Homo sapiens: one gene and its partners. The protein of the gene in region 1 purifies or fractionates together with the protein of each later gene. This does not show direct contact. Each region holds a gene or a part of one and is shown in the gene's direction. Other genes may lie near its edges.

Region 1 (3,500 bases):
CTAGACTTATAAAATTTGAGAACCTTTTACAATAGTATATTTAAATTATTTTTATAAACTGTGATATTTTGTGGTAGTTCATTGAAAAGAGTACTTCACTTTGGAGCTAAATAGACTAGGATTTTAATTCTGGCTCTGTTCTTACTGTGTGACACTGGACAGGTCACTTAATCTTTCTGAGCCTTAGTTCCCTCACTTGAGAAATGAAGATATCTAAATACATATTACAGGTTAGTTGTAAGAATAGAAGTATCAATATAGCAACTAGTACTATGTCTGACATATAGTTACTTAATAATTAGAAACTTTTTATTAGCTGTGGGTCTTTTTGTTTTTCGTCTGATAATTACAGATACAAAGTAAGTACCGGATTAAAATTTTTTTCTATCTTATGATTATTTTCATTGGAGATACAATAGTCTTTAAAATTTTAGCTCAACTGACCAGTTTTGTACGTGTAAGGTGATTCTTCTGTTTTTTTGTATGTGTGCATGCTGAAGATTTTTTATTTTGAGAACTCAGGTTCCTCTTTTGCTTTTAAAAATCACACACACACACACACACACACACACACACACACTTCAAATAATTAAATTGCTTTTTCTCTTTTTAAACATTTTACTTGGTTATACCTGTATAGTTTAGTCCAGTAAACCAGGAGAGCACATAAAGATGAGGATTTAATTTTAGTATTAATGATCTCAAAGCTGGTTAATGTCTGACAATGAGCAGATACATGATGCAGGTATACTTCATGAATTTGTCTCATTTCTTGTTAGAAGCTGCTAGACTCAGTGAGCTTTAATTTGCTGAGACTGACAAAATGCAGATTTTCACTGAACCTGACTAGCTGGTTTTCAACATAAACTTTTGACACATAACAATATGCTTATATTGACACTATGTATACCTGTGCATTGCCTAGAAGTAGGAACATGGAAAAAAGTGATCCAGGCACCCAAGTTTAAGTTTGGAATTGATAGAGTGTCAGGGCTGATTTAAAAAGAGAGTTTAGGTCTTGATTTATAAATTTCCTAGGTTCAGAGTTCTTTTGAGCATGGATTACCTGTATCTTACAGATAAAAGTTGTTTAAAATTTATTCTGTCTTGAAGACACACTGCAGTAAGTTTACTTTTATCAATATTTAAAAGAAAATTACCATAAGTATGCTAGGGACTGTTAATTCTGATGCATTTAAACTTTTAGTTTTGCTTAGAAAACTTACTTATACAGATTTTTTTTAAAGAAATTCAAGCTTTTCATATGTATTGTATTATCATTCCTCGTGTTTTAGCTGCAACAAATATGAAGTGGATTGAAGCTAAAATGAAAGTAAGTGTTAGAAAGCAATCCATTTAAAAATATTTTCAAACTGCATTTGTCTTGTTAAAAGTTCTAGAACTGAATTAATTTTATTCTTACTGGAGGGCACTTAGTAGATAGATAAATGCCATTATTGGGAGTAGAGGTGTTTTTAAAGTGTGTTTAATAAGTGGATTGTACTGAATCCCTAAGTCTTTTTTAAGAAAAAGTATAACTAAGCTTGTCCCCTCCCCCACATTCTTCCTCATTTTACAATAATACTTTATTTTCCTTCTTTTGCTCTAGTGTGCAATACTTAAAGAGTCAGTATTCTCCTAAAATGGTAAATTAGGAAGTAATCTATTTCTATTTTCCTTGGTTTACCATTTATTGACTTGGCTAAGTGAAACTAAAATACTTCCTAGTTGTTTAGCAAGATGTAGTGGCCAGTGGTGTAGAAAGTTGGCATTATGAGAAATTGCAGCTAGAATATTCAGAAAATCTGAAATTTTCCACACTACTATGTTTTAACCTCACAAATATTTGTGTTTATAGGAGCTGGGAGTGAGCACAAATGCAAATTATAAGATTACTTTCATGTTGGATAGTGCTGCTATGATAACAGTACATACTCCAAGGAGAGGATTAATAGACGTAAGAAGTCATTTTATTTCTATTTAATGACACCATGGTTATTTTCCAGTGTACTTTTTATGTTTATACCTATGGAGTAAATAGTGTAGAGATTCATCTGAGTGAATAATAAAGTGGTTGAGTTTTGACATAGGAAAATGTATTTAAGGTTAAAAGATTTTTTTTTTTTTTTTTTTTTTTTTTTGAGATGGAGTCTCATTGTGCCGCCCAGGCTGGAGTGCAGTGGTGCAATCTCGCTCACGCAAGCTCCGCCTCCCAGGTTCACGCCATTCTCCTGCCTCAGCCTCCTGAGTAGCTGGGACTACAGGCACCCGCCACCACGCCCGGCTAATTTTTTCGTATTTTCAGTAGAGACGGAGTTTCACTGTTGTTAGCCAGGATGGTCTCGATCTCCTGACCTCGTGATCCGCCTGCCTCGGCCTCCCAAAGTGCTGGGATTATGGGCGTGAGCCACTGTGCCCAGCCAAGGTTAAAAGATTTGAATTTTAATGATAAAATTAGGGATCTTGAAGTAGGACTGTCAAGAAAGGAACTTGTGATTGTGGGTAATTGACCTGTGTTGATGACAGCACAATGTTACTGGGCAGAGTAGGTGAGAAAAATACTGAATATTATCAAGGAAGATACTAGAAACAAGCGAAAACACTCACCCTGCCCTGTTTGAAACTGGTAATAAAAGCAGATGCATCATGATGCATGTACTTTGGGATGATGCTGAAGAATAGCAACAAGAACAATCAGAGAAAAGGGTTTGGCTAACCAGTTATTTTACTCATCAAGTAACTACTCATACTATTAAGTATCTACTGTCTGGAAGGCCCTGTGATAGGCACTGTTGGGAATAAAGAGATGAGTGAGACACAGTCCATATCATTTGAAAGCACCCAAACTGTTAGCTGGGCTGGATAATGCATGCCTGTAATCCCAGCTACTCAGGAGGCTGAGGCAGGAGAATTGCTCAAACCCAGGGGGCGGTGGTTGCAGTGAGCTAAGATTGAGCCACTGCACTCCAGCCTGGGTGACAGAGCAAGATTCTGTCTCAACAAAATAAAGTAAAATAAAAGCACCCAAACTAATAGGAATTGAGGAGAACTTAGGATACGAGGAAACCTTAGGGGAGACAGTATTAAAATTATCAAAACCATAAATAGAATGATTTAAGGGCATGGGGACTTGTTCTATAAAGGAAATACTGCATGTATCGAGAAAAAGATAACTTACTATATACTAAAGTAAAATAATACATTTACAAAATCTTAACATTAAAAATTACTTAGGGAAATGTTAAACATGTTTTATAACAGTGAAAAATTAAAGGAATAAAAATAATCCTCAATATCCAGCAATAGGGCATTGGATATATAAATTACTGCTACCCATATAAGGGACTGTAGCTCGTCATTTGATGTAGTAGGATATGTAATGATTTAGAAATTTTCATGACACATTTAAGTGAAAGAAGTATTTTAGAGAACACTGTTGTAAGCCGTTAGAAAATAGTTCTTAACCTTTGTTTGGTTCAGGATTACCCTTAATTTAACAA
Region 2 (3,500 bases), on another chromosome or scaffold:
GAACCACCGTGCCCAGCCTGAGATTTTGTTTTAATTGCACCCTAGCAAGTTGCTGGTTATCTATGGTGCTCCTGATATAGAACGATAGTTAAAAACATGAGAATATTCTATTTTGGAAGTGTCTTCAGAACTATATAGTGTCATGCCTGATATTAAAGGTAGTCCTTAATATGAAACCCAGGTTTTTTTTTAAAAGGTAATCCTGTCTAAAGGCTTCAAGGAGAGGACTTTTTTTTTGTACCATAAGTTACATTCTGTCCAAATGTAAGAGGAATTTTTTCATTAGACTCATCTTCAGCTAATTGTTTTGTGTGTTCTCTGCTAGTGAGGTGGAATGACTATTAATCTGTTACCACCTCTCTTTTTATTTATGTATATATTTGAAATGATAGAGAGGTCACAAAATTATTCTTTTTTGCAGAGGAAGACTTAGAGGGCAAAACAGAGGAAGAAATAGAAATGATGAAGTTAATGGGATTTGCCTCCTTTGACTCCACAAAAGTAAGTAAAACGTGCAACATTCTCATTTGAATTAATATGTTATGACTGTCCTATCTTTCCATGTTCTTTTCCATTTATACAAATTTATTTGGTTATAAGACAATAACTATCTGTTTGAAGGGCTTTGAGAATACAAAGGAGGAAACAGTGAACTGCCATTGGAATTCAGGGAGTGGTTGCCAGGGACGATGTTTGAATTAGATTTTAAAGGACAAGTAGAAGTGATCAGACAAAGAAGAGGAAGAAGATTATTTCAGGTAGAGGGAAGAGCTCATGAAAATGCCATGTAGGTGTAAAGGAGCATAGTGTATTGTGGGAATTTCAGATTCGACCAGGGATAAAGGGGTGCTGATGGGCTAGTGACTTAGGCTAGAAATAGAGGTAGGAGGCAAATCACAGAGGGCTTTTGATGCCCTTAGTCATGCTAAGGAATTCAGAGTTTATTCTTTTGGTGTTGAGGAGAGGAAGTAGTGATTTTTAAATAAGGGAGTGGCATGGTTATATGTGTGTTTTGGAATAATGACTCTGGGGGCAGCATGGAGGACAGATGGGAGGTGGGTTAGATTGAAGGCAGGGAGAACTGCTGATTTGTGCAAGTGAAAGATGATAAAGGCCTGAACTGAGTTGAGAATGATTCAGGAGCTGGGGGAAGTGGGAGTGAGTAGTTAGTAATGCCTCTCAGGTGTCAGGCTGGGACCCTGAGTGATACAGTTAACCCAGAACAGAGTTTCTGGAAGGGGAACTGCTGGGAAATGGAAGAACAAAATCCAGCTGCCAGATAGAGATGACATTGGGCAGCTGCATACTTGTCTCATAGCTTAGAAGTGGGGTGGATAGGGGAGGGAATGCTGTCTAGCCTTCATAATAGCAGAGAGATGAGGGAAGAGGAAAAAGAGGGAGGGATTATATAGAGGAGGGAGAGCATAGAGCGAGAGATGGGGGAAGAGAGAGATGGGTATAGAGAGAGGAAATGAAGAGAGGAGAGGGGATGGAGAGAGGGAGGGTGTGTGGAAAGAAAAACATATTTTTTAAAATCTCTTTTCTAGAATTTTAAGTCTTTCCATTTAGTTTTGCAAATGGAAATAGAGATGTTTGAGAAAAAGTTGTCAAAAATAATCCACTTTCCCAAGTCTTGTATTCCATTGAGTTGCTAATGGAATGGGGTAATCTCAGTGGCTGTAAGTTTCTTTCTAACTAATGTGACTGTGTAGGGCTCACATGTTTTAAAATGACAGTGTGTAACTTAGGAGTACTGAGGCATGACTGTTTTGAGGTGAGAAATTAAGAACAAGCTCTTGTTCTTGCAATGGTTATGTGAGCTCTGTTTTGGAATTTAATGAAGTTTATTTATCAGCTTTTTTCCCTTGAATGCCCTAAATTCTTATTTATTTTCCAAAGACTATTTTATAAATGAAAGTTTATTAAGATATATGTTGGGTGAAATGTAAGTTTATTAAGATATATGTTGGGTGAATTAAAATATGTCAAAAGTAAAGCAACTATAGTTTTATTGTCTTTAGAAGAATGGGGAGGGAACTTTTTCCCCAAAGAAAATGGAATTATTTTCTTTGTTTTTTGGTTTTCCTGTTGCTGGATGTTAGGTTTAAAGTTCCTGAAAGTCAGATCTAAGGGTGGTGCCACCCATCACTTAAATGTAGTCAGTGAAGAAGATGTTTGCTTATAAAGGAAAACTTAGGTGAAAAGTCATAGATCTTAAAAAAATTATGGAGTACCATCACACTAATTGATGTCAGTTTTTTAAAATGACATCTACAAGGATGTCAATTTAGTTTATATGCAGTTGGCTTCATGGCTATCAGTTATAACGTCAGCTCATTTGTGTTTTTAAGTAATGTGTGTCTTGTGATGTTTCATCATTGATCTATTGTGGGACCTCTTCATATGCCAGTATAGTCACCCATTTTCCTTTCTATTTGATTGTATTTTCATTTTTTTATTTGTATTATTTTTTATTTTAATTTTATTTTTTCGAGACAGAGTCTCGCTCTGTTGTCCAGGCTGGAGTGCAGCGGCGCAATCTCGGCTCACTGCTACCTCCGCCTCCTGGGTTCAACCGATTCTCCTGCCTTGGCCTCCCAAGTTGCTGGGATTACAGGCGCCTGCCACCACGCCTGGCTAATTTTCGTATTTTTAGTAGAGATGGGGTTTCGCCATATTGGCCAGGCTGGTCTCGAACTCTTGGCCTGAAGGGATCCACCTGCCTTGGCCTCCCAAAGTGCTAGGATTACAGGCGTGAGACATTGCGCCCGGCCTCATTTTTTAGTTTTTTAGAGACAGGGTCTTGTTTTGCCACCCATACTGGAGTACAGTGGTATGATCATGGCTCACTGCAGCCTGACCTCCTGGGCTGAAGCAATTTCCCTGCCTTAGCCTCTGGAGTAGCTGAGAGTAGGCACATGCCGCCACGCCAGGATAATGTTTTTATTTTTTGCAGAGATAGGGTCTTGCTGTGCTGCCTAGATTGGTCTTGAACTCATGGCCTCAAGAAATCCTCCTGCCTCAGTCCATTTTTTTTTTTTTATTTTTGAAGAGACAGAGTCTTCCTATGTTGTCCAGGCTGTACTCAAACTCCTTGGCTCAAGAAATCCTCTTGCCCCAGCCTCCCAAGTAGCTGGGACTGTAGCCTCACAGCAATGTGCTTGGCTTTTCCCTTTCATCTTATTAGATTGGTGGAAAAGTAATTACAGTTTTTGCCATTGAAAATAATGGCTAAAACTGCAATTACTTCAATAACATTTTTCTAGATGGTTTCAAAGTTTGGTTTTGTTTATTAATGGATAATTTTCTATGCCAGCATGTAAATAAATGAGGATAGGGCTAATAATATGCAATTCTGCAAATAGTTTCCAGAAATCAGTAAACCTTTAGGAATCGAACTTTGTAAAAAGGTTATCATCATTTACTTTTTTGTGCCCAAGACCAGTCTTTCTAAGTCATGCTTACTTCCTATTATAGGGAGTTCAAAATCATATACCTCA
Region 3 (3,500 bases), on another chromosome or scaffold:
AAACTCATAAACTCTGTGTTTGTTTTAATAATAATTGATGTATTTGTTTCTAGGGGCCACCTACAGATGCTCCTGCAGTGGACACAGCAGAACAAGTCTATATCTCTTCCCTGGCACTGTTAAAAGTAGGTAATGAATGTAGTTACTTGCTTTAGAGAACTCTGTTGCTTTCACTGTATCTTTTACTTTGGAATATTTGTCACCTTAATCCTCTCAGACATAAATAAGCTATTGTTTTAGGTACATTTATAAAAGGAGTTTTTATTTTCACTGGAACAAAATTTGGTTTTTGTTTTATAAAGAAGAACCAGAGACCTCAACGAAATTTGCTTTGTGTCCACATCTCTTCCTTTCTACAGATGTTAAAACATGGCCGTGCTGGAGTTCCAATGGAAGTTATGGGTTTGATGCTTGGAGAATTTGTTGATGATTATACCGTCAGAGTGATTGATGTGTTTGCTATGCCACAGTCAGGAACAGTGAGTACTTTTATGGTTGCCTGCTGCAAGTAAATGTGTTTCTTTTCATTTTTCTTTTCCTATGCAAACTAACTCTCATCATATTACATTTTCTCTTTCCAGTAGGAAAAATTAATCATAAGTTTGATAGAAATTTTTAGATTGTATTGAATTAAATCATTAATCTTTAAAACGCAGCATAACTTCTTATAGGTCTACAAACTGAATGATGCTAATGCTAAATTTCTTTTCTCAGTCCTTCGGCTTAAACTGGTGTAAAATACTGGATTTAAAAGTTACTTACCCTATAATAGCAGAGTGTTAGTTTGATTTTGAACCAAGTGTTCAAAAGATTTGAGATTCTCTTAATTTAGATTTTCAACTCACATATACTGGTTCTTATGTCTTGTTCCCATTGTTTTGAAATATGTCATTTAAAAAATGTTCTATATATGGTGATGAATGACTTTTTAAGCTTTTCTTATTTAAAATGTTAAGTTAAAGCAAAACAAAACAATAGCAAACCTGAATATTTTTTTCCCAGGCATGGTATTTTGTTTATATGCACCGTACTCCATACAAATTACCTGTATAGAATACATTATTCTTTCTAGAGATGTTTGTTTTGTTTTGCCTTTTTGTTTGATGCATTAGACTTGTGTTGATAGATGTGCATTTTGACTGAAAGAAAATAGCCAAAAAACAATAACCATTCCATCTACCTTCCAAAAAAAGCACATATATCCTTCTCACCTGTTTGCTTAGAAAAATATGCATGTATTTTTCCAAGCGATATTTCTTCTTTGCTAGGCAATATTTCTCTTACTGAGCCTTGTAAAAGAAGGATTAAAGAAATTGTTGTTATAAAGCTGTTAGTTCTATTCGAAGTTCTGTAAGTTTACTTTGATAAGGTAGATGCTGGAGAACAAATTACAATTTTAAGTACTGTAATATATATAGTATGTATATTAAAAATAAGCATTTAAAATAGAATATTTGCTACAGAATGCAATATATTTAAAATAATGTAAAGTTTTCTCTAAATAGATGAATTTGTTGAGGTAAACTAATTTGGATCTACTGATTTTATCCATCTTGATATCCATTATATTTATTTTATACATTTGGAAATAGAGAAACACTCTACATGTTAACCAAAGGTTTAGATTTAAATCTTAGACTATTTATTACTTGTATCTGTCTTTTTATATTAGGCTACATGAAACACATAAAACTAACTTATATATGTTATGGGTACTTATGTAGATACCCATTATAATACATTGTTCTTAGGCTTTAATATCATTACTTCCATGTAAATGCTTGTTTGACAATATAAAATAAAAGATTTTGATCCCTATATTCACTCTAATTCTATTTTCTAGTGTCATAGAATTAGAAAGTTTTTCTTCTGACCCCAGAGTCAGTAAACTTTTTCTATAAAGACATATGTCTCTGTTGCATATTCTTCTTCTTTTTTAAGACAGTCCTTTTAAAGTATATATATGAAAAGAAAGAAAAAAACCGAAAACATTCTTAGCCTATAAGCAGCAGATTGCATACCCCTGTTCTTGAGGATGTACTCTCTGTTGGAATTCAATATGCATACTGTTTGTTTTGGTGGGAAGGAAGTGCTTATGTTAACTAGTTTCTTTAAGTACATTAGATTTAGATTCCTGAGGTTAGAAGAAAGCCTTGGGAGCTATAAAGACAGTACTCTATCGCCAGAGAGATGATCTGAACCTTTTAATTCTTCCTGTTCAAATATCTTATTTTGGTTGAACTAGCAAAATAATGCTGTATGTAAGAGACTTGAGGCTGTTTCATTATGATAGCTGAATATTTGTAGAACTTTGGATGAGGCTCATTTTAGTCATCAGTTATGATAGGATGGCATTAGGAAGTATGCTTGCCTAAATAGGTCTAACCAATAGTTATGGTTGGTTCAATTATTTCGTATTTCTGGTAAACATATACACAGCAATGGCCATATACTCTTAAAGAATCCTGAAAGTGGGCTTAACTCGATCGCCAACAGCAGTTTGGTAGTTGGCAATTTTAGAAGCTTGATTGGTATGAGGTTTATAATTGAATGACTTGAGTAGGTATCAAATGTAGGTATCAAAACCTATAAAATGATTTTGGCAACCCCAAATAATATACATAGGGAAGCTTTTTTTCCAAATTTACAAAAATTAATAATTTTTCTTTCTTTCTAAATCAGGGTGTCAGTGTGGAGGCAGTTGATCCAGTGTTCCAAGCTAAAATGTTGGATATGTTGAAGCAGACAGGAAGGTAAGCATTTTAAATGATCAGTTAAAGAAATAATGGGAAATATTTATAGAAACATACCTCAAAGTTATAGATGTTTATCAATGTCATTTCTAGAAAAAGTGGTTATGTAATTGACATAAAAGTATCTGTAAATATCAGTGCCATGCACCACCTGTCTAGTATATCTTCCCTTTAGAACCAGAGAAATTTGCCCATCAGAGAACTGCCTCATGTTAAAATTCTTGACTGTCACATAGTAAGCTTGGGCTGTAGCTTCCCTCTGTTTAGCATATGGAGTTACTGTCTAGTCACTTATAATTGAAAGAGCTTGTATGTTCCATGTATTTGAGAGTTGCAACTGAATGAGATTATGAATATTTAATTATGTTTGTAGGCATAGTTTTAAAGACAGAGAAAGTATAATCCAAATATTCTAAAGTTTTTTCCTCAGACCAAATCTCTCAATAGTTGTCATTCTCTTGCTCAAATTCTTCTGCTGTGGAAACAACTTCAAAATTAATGTTAGCAAAAGGCTCAGCAGCTGAGCAGAACAGTGCAAATTGGTTTTTGACTGAGTTCCTAGTTCTACTGCTGGTTTAATTGATATTTAATCCTTTCACAACAGTGGATCCTGGTGTCCATTGTTAAAAATGTACTCTGTGCCTGGAAAATCCAACTCCCAGAGCTAAGGAGTTAAAGAGTAGATATTTACTTGAATGCTGAAAGGGTAAAAACTGGCTCTGAGAAACTGTGGTAACAAGGTGAAAA
Region 4 (2,421 bases), on another chromosome or scaffold:
TTCTTACCTTATTATTATTTTCTTTATTGTTAGCTTGCTTAAATTTGTAGAACCAGATAGGGCTTAATTAACAAATAGAGGAATACTATTTTCATCAATTTGAATTAATCTATTCATAATTCTATATCATTGCAGTTTTAGATCTATCTTAATCCAATTAAGTATAGATTTATGAACATTTGCTGAATCAGTGGCCTTGACATTTGGTAGTTATTATAAGTCCTGAATAAATAAGAAGCTGGATTGGAGAGTGCCGAATAAGGTTTCAGAAACATAATTTATAGATACCTTGCACTAGAAACCTAAGTCTTATTTCTCTGATTCTCTTCTCTCCAGTAGCGGATGCTTAACATGTGGGAAGGCCCAGCACTTGAAAAAAATAGGCATAGATGAGACAGGGGTAATTTAACATAATGATCTTTGTGTCCTATGGTATAAAAACTGAAAACTGCAAGATTAGGCAAATAATGGTTTTCAGTTTGCCTTTTCTATGAGGCACTGTTTTAGTGGATACATTCAACAGGTTTAGGTTCTGGCTGTAGCTCTGCTACTCTATTGTGAACATGAGGACAGAGTTAACCTCTGAAATTGTAATCTATGAAATTAATTTGTTGAGCCAATATTCATTGAGTTATGTTCTAATAAGACATGGTCCATGCCCTCAAAGAGCTGAAGACAACTCTTTGTCTTCAGTTGGGAAAATAAGTACAATCAAGTATTATGGGTACAATGAATGACTTCATAGAGGAGATGATACCTAAACTGATTTTTTAAAAAAGAGACATCTCTGGCAGAGCAAGGCAAAGGGGACAGAGGAGCAGACAGAAAGGGAGGGAGAAGAGGAGTTATTAAAGGGAAGCGATCAGTAAAGGAACAAGAGCGAAGAGGCATAAGCAGCATGCTTGGATTTGAGGTGTGAGCCCGGTGCAATGAGAAATGAAATGGGAACAACCAGATCTTGAAGAGTGAGGTTTTTAAATTTAAAAGTTTGACTAAAAAGTCTATAATGCTCTCTGTAGCTTGGATTCTGATCTCAGAATATTGGTAGTGAATGATTGGCTATCACTATTCAAAATTAGTGATAGCCAAGAAATTACATTAGTCAAAACGAGGTTTCTCTTGTGTAATTTTCAGCCTTTGTAATAAGCATGAAAGGCTGGGAAATGGAGTGCAAATACTTTTGGTCAAAAGCACTCTCTTGCTACTTCATCTTTCATTTTACTGCCTACCTTGTTTCTTTTCTTCTTTTTTTTAAATTGTGGAAAATTTTGAAAACATACAAAGTAACAGAATCAGATAACGAACTTCATTACTTAGCTTGAACAACTATCAACATTCTTATTTTATTTATTCCTGTACTCTCACACATCGTTTAGTTATCGCTAACATTATTTTTACTATTTTTAGGTATAATTCACATATATTGAAATTTACAAATCTTAGATATACATTTTTGACAAATAGATACGTCTGTGAAATTCACATCATCCCAGTTATTGGAAACTGGGAAAGCCCCCAGTTTCCTTTTTACCCCTTTCCAATCTCCCCTATCCCCACCCTTCCCTCCAGGTGAGAAGAGTAACATTGTTCTGACTTTTTGTTTGTTTGTTTGTTTACCTTAGATGAGTTTTGCCTGTCTTAGAATTCTATAAGGAACTCTTCTGTATGTCCTCACTTGTTTCTGGCCTCTTACCTGTGAGCTTCACCCGTGGTACTGAGCCTGTTAGCAATTCCTCCCTTTGTTTTGCTGAGCACATGCTGTTGTATGAATTTACTACAATTTGTTACCGATTCTTTTGTTAGTGGGTATTTTGGTTGTTTTCCTTTTTTTTTAGACAGAGTCTCACTCTGTTGCCTAGGCTGGAGTGCAGTGGCATGATCTCGGCTCACTGCAACCTCTGCCTCCCAGGTTGAAGCGATTCTCCCACCTCAGCCTCCCTAGTAGCTGGGATTACAGGTGCACACCACCACACCTGGCTCATTTTATGTATTTTAGGTAGAGGTGGGGTTTCACCATGGTGCCCAGGCTGGTCTCAAACTCCTGACCTGAGGTGATCCATCTGCCTCAGCCTCCTAAAATGCTGGGATTACAGGTATGAACCACTTTGCCCAGCCTTGTTTTCGATTTTTTGCTATCGTGAATGAAGTTGCTATGAACATTCGTGTCTACATTGTTTTGCAAACATATGTTTTCATTTTTCTTGGACAAATATCTGGGAGTGGAATTACTGGGTCAAAAGATAGGTATGTGTTTAACTTGGTAAGAAACGGCCAAATTGTTTTCCAAAATGGTGGTACCATATACCTTCCCTACCAGCAATGTATGTGATCACAGCTGTTCCACATCCCTGCTGACATTTGGTGTTGTCAATCTTTAATTTTAGCCATAATGTGAATATATGGTGGTATCTCATTGTCATT

What was found. The genes of interacting proteins can lie anywhere in the genome.
Region 2: the proteins of UBLCP1 (region 1) and SNRNP27 purify together in Homo sapiens (co-immunoprecipitation; one large-scale study listed by IntAct). This does not show direct contact.
Region 3: the proteins of UBLCP1 (region 1) and PSMD14 purify together in Homo sapiens (affinity purification with mass spectrometry; 2 studies listed by BioGRID and IntAct, with this or other methods). This does not show direct contact.
Region 4: the proteins of UBLCP1 (region 1) and PEX7 purify together in Homo sapiens (co-immunoprecipitation; one large-scale study listed by IntAct). This does not show direct contact.

The regions. Positions count from the first base shown.
Region 1 is NC_000005.10:159,273,290-159,276,789, forward strand, and holds part of UBLCP1 (ubiquitin-like domain-containing CTD phosphatase 1), read left to right. Parts: intron 1-1,295; coding exon 1,296-1,333; intron 1,334-1,858; coding exon 1,859-1,957; intron 1,958-3,500. UniProt on the Homo sapiens protein: Dephosphorylates 26S nuclear proteasomes, thereby decreasing their proteolytic activity. Recruited to the 19S regulatory particle of the 26S proteasome through its interaction with 19S component PSMD2/RPN1.
Region 2 is NC_000002.12:69,896,956-69,900,455, forward strand, and holds part of SNRNP27 (U4/U6.U5 small nuclear ribonucleoprotein 27 kDa protein), read left to right. Parts: intron 1-421; coding exon 422-501; intron 502-3,500. UniProt on the Homo sapiens protein: May play a role in mRNA splicing.
Region 3 is NC_000002.12:161,367,425-161,370,924, forward strand, and holds part of PSMD14 (26S proteasome non-ATPase regulatory subunit 14), read left to right. Parts: intron 1-53; coding exon 54-125; intron 126-359; coding exon 360-479; intron 480-2,682; coding exon 2,683-2,753; intron 2,754-3,500. UniProt on the Homo sapiens protein: Component of the 26S proteasome, a multiprotein complex involved in the ATP-dependent degradation of ubiquitinated proteins.
Region 4 is NC_000006.12:136,909,592-136,912,012, forward strand, and holds part of PEX7 (peroxisomal biogenesis factor 7), read left to right. Parts: intron 1-2,421. UniProt on the Homo sapiens protein: Receptor required for the peroxisomal import of proteins containing a C-terminal PTS2-type peroxisomal targeting signal. Specifically binds to cargo proteins containing a PTS2 peroxisomal targeting signal in the cytosol.